Homo sapiens: one gene and its partners. Changing the gene in region 1 together with any one later gene gives a genetic interaction. Each region holds a gene or a part of one and is shown on either strand. Other genes may lie near its edges.

The links.
Region 2: changes in CHD4 (region 1) and GEMIN5 together harm fitness less than expected from each alone (positive genetic interaction), as found in Homo sapiens cells (one large-scale study listed by BioGRID).
Region 3: changes in CHD4 (region 1) and MCM2 together harm fitness less than expected from each alone (positive genetic interaction), as found in Homo sapiens cells (one large-scale study listed by BioGRID).

Annotation. Positions count from the first base shown.
Region 1 is NC_000012.12:6,593,775-6,597,423, reverse strand, and holds part of CHD4 (chromodomain-helicase-DNA-binding protein 4), read left to right. Parts: intron 1-1,286; coding exon 1,287-1,418; intron 1,419-1,993; coding exon 1,994-2,090; intron 2,091-2,773; coding exon 2,774-2,965; intron 2,966-3,649. UniProt on the Homo sapiens protein: ATP-dependent chromatin-remodeling factor that binds and distorts nucleosomal DNA. Acts as a component of the histone deacetylase NuRD complex which participates in the remodeling of chromatin.
Region 2 is NC_000005.10:154,931,609-154,935,257, reverse strand, and holds part of GEMIN5 (gem-associated protein 5), read left to right. Parts: intron 1-3,007; coding exon 3,008-3,159; intron 3,160-3,649. UniProt on the Homo sapiens protein: The SMN complex catalyzes the assembly of small nuclear ribonucleoproteins (snRNPs), the building blocks of the spliceosome, and thereby plays an important role in the splicing of cellular pre-mRNAs.
Region 3 is NC_000003.12:127,618,797-127,622,445, forward strand, and holds the end of MCM2 (DNA replication licensing factor MCM2), read left to right. Parts: intron 1-230; coding exon 231-482; intron 483-1,901; coding exon 1,902-2,084; intron 2,085-2,276; coding exon 2,277-2,432; intron 2,433-2,866; coding exon 2,867-2,977; 3' UTR 2,978-3,640; downstream 3,641-3,649. UniProt on the Homo sapiens protein: Acts as a component of the MCM2-7 complex (MCM complex) which is the replicative helicase essential for 'once per cell cycle' DNA replication initiation and elongation in eukaryotic cells.

The DNA of each region.
Region 1 (3,649 bases):
CGTGATCACTGCTCATAGCTGTCCCAAACTCCTGGGCTCAAGCAATCTGTCTGCTTCAGCTTCCCAAAGTGTTAGGATTACAGGCGTGAGCTACTGCGCCTGACACTTCATGTTATTATCTTTATTTATTTATTTTATTATTATTGTTTTTTTTTGAGACAGACTTGTCACCCAGGCTGGAGTGCAGTGGCGTGATCTTGGCTCACTGCAAGCTCTGCCTCCTGGGTTCACGCCATTTTCCTGCCTCAGCCTCCCGAGTAGCTGGGACTACAGGCCATCGCCACCATGCCTGGCTAATTTTTTTTTTTTTGTATTTTTAGTAGAGACGGGATTTCACTGTGTTAGCCAGGATGGTCTTGATCGCCTGACCTTGTGATCCGCTCACCTCCTCCTTCCAAAGTGCTGGGATTACAGGCGTGAGCCGCCGCACTCGGCCTATTTATTTATTTATTTATTATATTTTTTGAGACAGAGTCTTGCTCTGTGGCCCAGCCTGGAGTGCAGTGGTATGATCTAAGCTCACTGCAACCTCCGCCTCTCAGGCTCAAGTGATTCTCTGCCTCAGCCTCCAGAGTAGCTGGGATTACAGGCGTGTGCCACCACGCCTGCCTAATTTTTTTTTTTGAAATGGAGTCTCGTTCTGTCGCCCAGGCTGGAGTGCAGTGGCGCAATCTCAGCTTGCTGCAACCTCCGCCGCCCGGGTTCAAGCAATTCTCCTGCTTCAGCTTCCCGAGTAGCTGGGATTACAGGCACCTGCCACCATGCCCGGCTAATTTTTGCATTTTTAGTAGAGACGGGGTTTCTCCATGCTGGCCAGACTGGTCTTGAACTCCCGACCTCAGGTGATCCGCCTGCCTTGGCCTCCCAAAGTGCTGGGATTATAGGCGTGAGCCACCGCGCCCGGCCTGATGCCTGGCTAATTTTTTTTTTTTTTTTTAGTAGAGACGGGTTTCGCCATGTTGGCCTGGCTGGTCTTGAGCTCCTGGCCTCAAGCGATCTGCCTGCCTCAGCTTCCCAAAGTGCTGGGATTACAGGCGTGAGCCACTGCACCCGGCCAACACTCTATGTTAATTATTAACTGACTGAATTCTGGTGTTTGAGCTCTAGGAAAGTATAAATTAGAGATAATTTTTGGTCAGAGACTGGTACAGTAGAGGCTCTGAAAACGTGTGATCTGTGGCATACCTAGAGGTCTGGTGTGAAACAAACGGTATTGCCAGTTTTTGAGAGGAAGTGAGGAGGGTTGCCTTTTCTGGCTCTGAGGGTTTTCTCTCCTGGACTTGCAGTGTGGACAAGAAGGGCCACGTCCACTACTTGATCAAGTGGCGGGACTTACCTTACGATCAGGCTTCTTGGGAGAGTGAGGATGTGGAGATCCAGGATTACGACCTGTTCAAGCAGAGCTATTGGAATCACAGGTGAGTGATTTTGGGTGAGGCATAGAGTTGTTTCTTTTTTTTTTTTTTTGAGATGGAGTCTTGCTCTGTCACCAAGCTGTAGTGCAGTGGCGTGATCTTGACTCACTGCAACCTCCGACTTCCTGGTTCAAACGATTCTCCTGCCTTAGCCTCCTGAGTAGCTGGGATTATTTGCATACGCCACCACACCTAGCTGATTTTTTTTTTTTTTTTTTTTGAGACGAAGTCTTGCTCTTGTCCCCCAGGCTGGAGTGCAATGGTGCGATCTTGGCTCGCTGCAGCCTCCGCCTCCTGGGTTCAAGCAATTCTCCTGCCTCAGTCTCCCGAGTAGCTGAGATTACAGGCGTCTGCCACCATGCCCAGCTAATTTTTGTATTTTTAGTAGAGACGGGGTTTCACCATGTTGACCAGGCTGGTCTCGATCTCCTGACCTCAGGTGATCCGCCCGTCTCAGCCTCCCAAAGTGCTGGCCTCCCAAAATGCTGGGATTACAGGTGTGAGCCACTGTGCCTGGCCAAGTTGTTTCTTCTATAGAAAAGGATTTTGGGCAGCTGTGTGATGTCTTTCTTCTTTAGGGAGTTAATGAGGGGTGAGGAAGGCCGACCAGGCAAGAAGCTCAAGAAGGTGAAGCTTCGGAAGTTGGAGAGGCCTCCAGAAACGCCAACAGTTGATGTGAGTGGGGGTGGAAGGGACTGTAGTTTGTTGGGTAGGACAATGTATCTTTGCTGCAGTCTAATGATGGTACTCTTAAGTAATGAAATGCAGATAGTAACTTTGTAGCTGAGATTACTTCACAAAGTCGGCTTCCCCACTTCTCCACATCTCTATATATCAGAAAGCACTAGGATTACTTTCTTCTTTTGTCATCAGAAAAAAAAAAAGGAGGTATATTTTGAATGATTGAAGAAGTGTTGTCTGGGGGGAGGGGCCACATAGCCTAGCTTTTATGCACTTACATAGGAATCTGGCTTAATTCAGGCTCAGTTCCTCTGGGTTTTGTTTGTACAGTGTAATTTGAGGGTGATTAAAGTTAAAAAGATGAATCTAAGAGGGACATAACGATTATTTACCTGGTGGATCCTGACTAGTAGAATTATTGTATTGGTAGGGAGTCTGTGACGTGCTTTTCCTCAGTGATCTGTAGGATCAAAATCAGGTCTGGTTAAGCCCTGTTTCCTGGAGGACCCTAAACTGAACATGAAATTGCAGTAATCATAGGGGATCTCTTCCCTCCGAATTTTCCGGAGCTCTTCCCCAAGAGGATCCGTGAAGACTAGTGAGGAGGAAGCAGCTGCTCTATTAGGGGAGGAGGGGAGTTCCTTGCCAGCTCTTGACTTCTCTGTTTCATCCTTCAGCCAACAGTGAAGTATGAGCGACAGCCAGAGTACCTGGATGCTACAGGTGGAACCCTGCACCCCTATCAAATGGAGGGCCTGAATTGGTTGCGCTTCTCCTGGGCTCAGGGCACTGACACCATCTTGGCTGATGAGATGGGCCTTGGGAAAACTGTACAGACAGCAGTCTTCCTGTATTCCCTTTACAAGGAGGTAAGGAAATCTGGGGTGGATAGTTTTTTGTGTGGGTGTTTTGTGTTTGAAGCCTTAACTTACACTGAGTAGAGAGATAAGGGAATAAAAAAATTGGTCTCTGACCTTCAAGAACACTGTGGATAATAGATAAACACATGTACACATGTGTTTAGTAGATAGTAGATAAATGTGATAGTGGATAAACACATGTACACAGCGGAAGATTTGAGGGCATGGAGCCCTGGGTAGGATTAGCAGTGGATCCATAGAGTATCAGTTCTAGGGGAATGATTGTGTGTTGAGGGAAGTAGAATTATGAGTAGAATTAGTATGGAAAGGCTTGGCTGGACGCAGTGGCTCATACCTGTAATCCCAGCACTTTGGAAGCCCGAGGTTGGTGGATCACCTGAGGTCAGGAGTTCGAGACCAGCCTGACCAACATGGCGAAACCCCGTCTCTACTAAAAATACAAAATTAGCCGGATGTGGTGGTGCACGCCTGTAATCCCAGCTACTTGGGAGGCTGAGGCAGGAGAATCGCTTGAACCCGGGAGGTGGAGGTTGCAGTGAGCTGAGATTGCGCCATTGCACTCCAGCCTGGGCAACAAGAGTGAAACTCCGTCTCAGAAAAAAAGTATATAAAGACTTAATGGGAGAGGTAAGACTTGTAGTTATGGTGGGACCTTGGGTTTTTGGAAAGGAG
Region 2 (3,649 bases), on another chromosome or scaffold:
AAGGCAATAGAGATACACAAAGAGACAACAACTCTTTCACAAAGTTTGTTGTAAAAATGTGCATATACATGAAGCCAGAGGGGATAGATGGGGTCAAGGGAGTATTAAATGGAAAATACCAGGGACCTGTTTTTATGCTGATGAAAGTAAGGCTTGAAAAGAGGAAGAGCTTGTTGCAGGAGTAAACTATGATAAATGCAGGGGTATTGCTGAAAAGTCAAGAGGGGATTGGATTCAGATGACAAGAAGAAAGAACAGCTGGGAATATAGAAATAGGTGCAGGTAGATTTGTAGATGTGCTTGGAAGAAAAAGGTGTTCTATTCTGGTATTTCTGATTTTCTCATTGAGGCATAAGTCAGAGTGGTAGAGTCAAGTTCATCATGGGGTTGAAACTGGATATGCAAAGAAGGTATGAAAATGGTCAAAGAGAATAGGAAAACGAATGTACTAAGGAAAATTATAGGCCCAGTGTTCACTGTTGAGTGGCAAACAAAGAATCGTGGCCATAAATTTAAAGTAAACCCAAACTGTTTGAGAAAGGAGATGGTTGGATTCAGCCAGGTTTGGGGCTTTGTGGAGTAAGTACTCTTGAGGGAGAGGGAGAAGGAGACGGGGCGTACGGGTATTTTTAAAAGTTGATGATAAGGCTGGGCGCAGTGGCTCACACCTGTAATCCCAACACTTTGGGAGGCCGAGGCGGGTGGATCACCTGAGGTCAGGAGTTCAAGACCAGCCCGGCCAACATGGTGAAGCCCCATCTCTACTAAAAATAAAAAATCAGGCCAGGTGCAGTGGTGCACGCCTGTAATCCCAGCACTTTGAGAGGCCGAGGTGGGCAAATCACCTGTGGTTGGGAGTTCAAGACCAGCATGGAGAAACCCCGTCTCTATTAAAAACACAAAATTAGCCAGGCATGGTGGCGCATGCCTGTAATCCCAGCTACTAGGGAGGCTGAGGCAGGAGGATCACTTGAACCCAGGAGGTAGAGGTTGTGGTGAGCCAGGATTGAGCCATTGCACCCCAGCCTGGGCAACAAGAGCGAAACTCTGTCTCAAAAAAACAAACAAACAAAAATTAGCCAGACTTGGTGGCGCACACCTGTAAGCCCAGCTACTCAGGAGGGTGAGGCAGGAGAATCGCTTGAACCTGGGCAGTGGAGGTTGCAGTGAGATGAGATTGCACCACTGCACTCCAGCCTGAGCGACAGAGCAAGACTCTATCTCAAAAAAAAAAGTCAATGATAGTGATGGATCATGAAATCTGTGCTGCATTGGGTAGGGGGATGTATGGAAAGACAGGTGTGGGTGAGTGATAGTGAAAATGGAAGGGGACTGGATCGGCAGTCTCTTGAAGTGGGAGCAGTGTTGTAGTAGGGTTGATAGAGAGGATGAACAGAAAGGTGGTAGGCAGGAGTCAGGGGAGGATCTTCAGAATAGTATTATTCCCAGAAAGCTTGATTCAGATTTCTAAATAGCTTGATCTGTTGGTGATTAGGTTGCATAACTTGGCAGTTTTCAAAGTCCGGGTCTTCAAAGGTTGACATACTCTAGTGTTTCTTTTAAAAAAAAAAAATAAATAAAGCTGTGCTGGTGTTCTTCCCTGTCGAATGCTGTAATGTGTAGGAAGTGTGAATAGGTACAGCCACTTTGTATAATGCAGTTTTGTACTTTCTAATAAAAATGCATATATCTTAACATCCTGGCAGTTCCATTACTAGTCATCAAACCTGAAATTGTCTTAGATGTGTACATGAACATTAATAGCATTTTTTTGTTGTAAAAAAGTGGAAGCCCTTCAAAAGGAAAATGAATAAACTTTGAAATATTCACACAGTGCAGTACTAATACAATAGTGTAATGACTGGCCAGGAACTAGAGTTACGTGTATCAACATGGATGAATTACAAACAGAATGAGTGAAAAAAACAAGCTGCAGGAAAATAGATGATAGCATTTATGTGCAGTTTTAAAATATGCAAAATCTATATCTTATTTAGGAATATATACAAAGAAAGGCTAGGAATGATATAACACAATTCACAAATAGAGTTTGACCTCTGGGTAGAGGAAGAAAAGGAGAAGAGATCTGGCAAGGAGAGAGGTTTGATTGAAGTGGAATGTACAGAGGACTTCAGCTCTATTGGTAATTATTTTTCTTAGGCAGGGTAGTAGATTACTTTTTTTATGTATCTGAAGTCATTCATTTTTAAAAAGCTATTAGAATTTCTCAGTTTCTTTTGAATTCATAAAATGACAGCCTTGGAATATGCAGGTCTAGAGTGTAGAATTCTGCAACTTTTGTTAAGTTCACAGTTTAAAAAGTAGTATCACTTATAAAGAAAGAGATTATTTTCCAGTGCACTAGGACAAAATTATCTCTAGTTAGAAGAGTTGGCCGGGTGTGGTGGCTGATGCCTATAATCCCATCACTTTAGGAGGCCAACGCAGGTAGATTGCTTGAGCCCAGGAGTTTGAGACCAGCCATGAGCAACATGGTGAAACCTCATCTCTACAAAAAAATACAAAAATTAGCTGGGCATGGCATGTACCTTTAGTCCCAGCTACTCAGTCCCAGGCTGAGGTGGGAGGATTGCTTGAGCCTGGGAAGTCAAGGCTGCAGTAAGTGGTGATTGTGCCACTGCACTCCAGCCTGGGCAACAGAGAAGGAAAAAAGAAGAGTTGCTGCACCCTTGCAAAAACTATGAAAATTCCCTTAGAACAAAATCATGGTCCACTGTGAGTTTTGTACCAGGCAACATACATAGTATTACCTAGTGCCAAGAGTTTGATCATAGAGAGAAGGGTTTTAACAAAACCAGGAGGCATAAGGTGAGCACTTTAAAAAAAGGAAAAAGCAAAATTATTTTTTGTCCTCTTCCCTCCTCCGCCACCCCAAATGCACCTAACTTTAAGGAATGCGCCAATGGTAACTCCAAGCCAAAATGTTTACTAGAGACTCTGTTCTGTCTTCATTTTTTTAGTAATATTTCTAACTCTTGTTTTTTAGCTACAAGGATGGCATAGTGGTGATAATTGACATCAGTAAGAAAGGAGAAGTTATTCATAGGCTTCGAGGCCATGATGATGAAATCCACTCCATAGCCTGGTGTCCCCTGCCTGGTGAAGATTGTTTATCTATAAACCAAGAGGAAACTTCAGGTAGAGATGGTTTAAGGGAAAGTTAAGTCCACTTGAGACCTGAAGAACAGAACGGGTACAATTATATCATTTTTTATTTATTATTTATTTTTGGAGACGGAGTTTTGCTTTTGTTGCCTAGGCTGGAGCGTGATCTCGGCTCACCGCAACCTCCGCCTCCCGGGTTCAAGCGATTCTCCTGCCTCAGCCTCCCGAGTAGCCGGGATTACAGGCATGCGCCACCACGCCCAGCTAATTTTGTATTTTTAGTAGAGACAGGTTTCTCCATGTTGGTCAGGCTGGTCTTGAACTCCCGACCTCAGGTGATCCACCTGCCTCAGCCTCCCAAAATGCTGGGATTACAGGCGTGAGCCACTGCACCAGGCCGAATTATATCATTTTAATTATACCTAAAACTTCAAATTTTATAGTTCAGACCTATGAAAGAGATAGCTAAGTTTTGGAAACTCTTGCAAACTAATTTTTTTATATTAGTGCGTGTTTAATGTAA
Region 3 (3,649 bases), on another chromosome or scaffold:
TTTAAGACTATTTGTCTCCTGTCCCCTTGTGGAGATGAGCCCTGTGGGGACTCTGTCCCATTGTCTGGTTTGCCACCCACACCCAGAACTGCCTGGCACATGGTCAGTGTAGTCAGTCTTGTTGAAAGAGTGTCACCCTTGTAGGGCACACTCAGCCCTTCTCCAGCCACTGACCTCCCCAAAGCCACGCACACCCACAATCAGACCCACCCTCTCATGGCTTATCTTAGGACGAGATGCTGGCCCGCTTCGTGGTGGGCAGCCACGTCAGACACCACCCCAGCAACAAGGAGGAGGAGGGGCTGGCCAATGGCAGCGCTGCTGAGCCCGCCATGCCCAACACGTATGGCGTGGAGCCCCTGCCCCAGGAGGTCCTGAAGAAGTACATCATCTACGCCAAGGAGAGGGTCCACCCGAAGCTCAACCAGATGGACCAGGACAAGGTGGCCAAGATGTACAGTGACCTGAGGAAAGAATCTATGGTGAGAGCCCAGGCAGAGCCGGGAGGTGCTATGCAGAGAAGGAAGTGCAGTGTGAGCCTTCTGACCAATGCAGCGGGGGTGGTGGTCAGTCAGGCCAAAAGGTGCCAGAGCAGGGAGGCATTAAAAAAAAAATGTAGGTGCCAGGCACAGTGGCTCACGCCTGTAATCCCAGTACTTTGGGAGGCCGAGGCAGGAGGATCACGATGTCAGGAGTTTGAGACCAGCCTGACCAACATGGTGAAACCCAAAAATTAGCCGGGTGTGGTGGCACATGCCTGTAATCCCAGCTTCTCAGGAGGCTGAGGCAGGAGAATCGCTTGAACCCGGGAGGCGGAGGGTGCAGTGAGCTGAGATCGCACCACTGCACTCCAGCCTGGGTGACAGAGTGAGACTCCATCTCAAAAACAAAAACAAAAAATGAAAGTTGGGTACAGTGATTCATGCCTGTAATCCCAGCACTTTGGGAGGCCAAGGCAGGAAGATTGCTTGAGGTGAGTTCAAGACCAGGCTGGGCAACATAGTGAGGCCCTTTCTCTACAAAAAATGTTTTGAAACTTAGCTGGGCCTGGTGGTTTGTGCCTGTAGTCCCAGCTACTCAGGAAGCTAAGGAAGGAAGATCTACTTGAGCCCAGGAGTTCGAGGCTACAGTGAGCTATGATGGCACCACTGCACTCTAGCCTTGGTGACACAGTGAAACCCTGTTTCAAAAAAAAAATATTTTTTTAAATGATAGGTATTAATATATACCTTAACCATTTTGTTTTAGATGAAATTTAAATGTGCATTCATTTGTCTCAGTGTAGGGCCAAGGCCTTAATTGTTGATGTGCTTATTAAGTTCCATATTGACTTTGTGTAAATTTCACTCTAATGAACACAAGGTCTTTGGCTCATTCATAGTGGAATGGAAACTTAAAGCAGCTTGCAAGCCATGGGAATGCCGAGTCCTTGTAGATTGCTGCCTCAGCCACACCCAGTCAACACAGCAGCTTTTCAAATTTCTGCCTTTTAACTTTACCAAGTTTTTTCAGATCATTCAATTTAGTTTTCCTACAAACAACGACCTTTTTTTGCACTTACATTGTACAGGATTATTCAATATTTAGTGTGTGACAATAACCAATACAGCTGGCCACAAATACAACAGCCTCTGAGATGCACAGAAGTCAGCTGGTGGGAGCAGAACTGTGCAGGTGTGATGGTGACAGGCCGTAAGCATGCAGCATCCACTGGCATCCTCTGATTTCCAGGAGGGATAGGAAGTGTGCATTCACTGGGCAGCGCAGTCAAGCATTCTGCATTTCTGCTGGGGCACTGTCAGATGGGTCTTCTTGGCTCTGGGTGCTAAGAGTGCCGCTGCTTTATTTTCCTTGCTTCTCTTTCCTGCCCGTGAAAGACCTGACACTGTGCTTCTCTCCAGGCGACAGGCAGCATCCCCATTACGGTGCGGCACATCGAGTCCATGATCCGCATGGCGGAGGCCCACGCGCGCATCCATCTGCGGGACTATGTGATCGAAGACGACGTCAACATGGCCATCCGCGTGATGCTGGAGAGCTTCATAGACACACAGAAGTTCAGCGTCATGCGCAGCATGCGCAAGGTGGGTGTGCTCCGAGGTAGGGGCCTGATGGGCAAGCTCAGTGAAGGAGGCCACACGTGGGTATCCAGGGCTCTGGCCTGGACGTGCACCCAGGAGCGGCAGCCTGTCTGACCTGGGTGCTGGCACGTAGGGTAAAGGGAGTGTGGCAGGCGTAGTGGGAGCGGGTGTTTGACTGAGGCTTTTTTCCTGCAGACTTTTGCCCGCTACCTTTCATTCCGGCGTGACAACAATGAGCTGTTGCTCTTCATACTGAAGCAGTTAGTGGCAGAGCAGGTGACATATCAGCGCAACCGCTTTGGGGCCCAGCAGGACACTATTGAGGTCCCTGAGAAGGACTTGGTGGATAAGGTATGGGCCCGGAAGGGAGGTGAGGGTTGGGGTATGCTGACTTGGGAGCTGCCAGTCTCCTGATGGGGGCTCCATCATAATGGGTCATGAAGTGGGTGGGCCTTGGTTGACAGCCATTTATTGAATGCTTACAGTCTGTTGAGTCCAGTTCTGTGCCTGTAGTCTGACAGCAGGGGAGTGAGGTGAGTCCTGTTACTGCCTTCCTGTTGTGCAGAGGTGGAGACAGATACAGGGCAGCCAAGTAACTTGTCTCAGTTTACACGCACAGCTTGTACAGCAGAGATTTGAAGCCCCTTAATCGGCCTCTCCACCCCTGGATATTTTCCTCCCATAAATGGAGGTGATGGTGTCTGAAAGTGCACTGTAACTGGGGCGCTCTGGAAACAGCCTGTTCTCACACCACTGATGGCTCACTGGACACTTCCTCCTTGCAGGCTCGTCAGATCAACATCCACAACCTCTCTGCATTTTATGACAGTGAGCTCTTCAGGATGAACAAGTTCAGCCACGACCTGAAAAGGAAAATGATCCTGCAGCAGTTCTGAGGCCCTATGCCATCCATAAGGATTCCTTGGGATTCTGGTTTGGGGTGGTCAGTGCCCTCTGTGCTTTATGGACACAAAACCAGAGCACTTGATGAACTCGGGGTACTAGGGTCAGGGCTTATAGCAGGATGTCTGGCTGCACCTGGCATGACTGTTTGTTTCTCCAAGCCTGCTTTGTGCTTCTCACCTTTGGGTGGGATGCCTTGCCAGTGTGTCTTACTTGGTTGCTGAACATCTTGCCACCTCCGAGTGCTTTGTCTCCACTCAGTACCTTGGATCAGAGCTGCTGAGTTCAGGATGCCTGCGTGTGGTTTAGGTGTTAGCCTTCTTACATGGATGTCAGGAGAGCTGCTGCCCTCTTGGCGTGAGTTGCGTATTCAGGCTGCTTTTGCTGCCTTTGGCCAGAGAGCTGGTTGAAGATGTTTGTAATCGTTTTCAGTCTCCTGCAGGTTTCTGTGCCCCTGTGGTGGAAGAGGGCACGACAGTGCCAGCGCAGCGTTCTGGGCTCCTCAGTCGCAGGGGTGGGATGTGAGTCATGCGGATTATCCACTCGCCACAGTTATCAGCTGCCATTGCTCCCTGTCTGTTTCCCCACTCTCTTATTTGTGCATTCGGTTTGGTTTCTGTAGTTTTAATTTTTAATAAAGTTGAATAAAATATAAACGCTGGTAT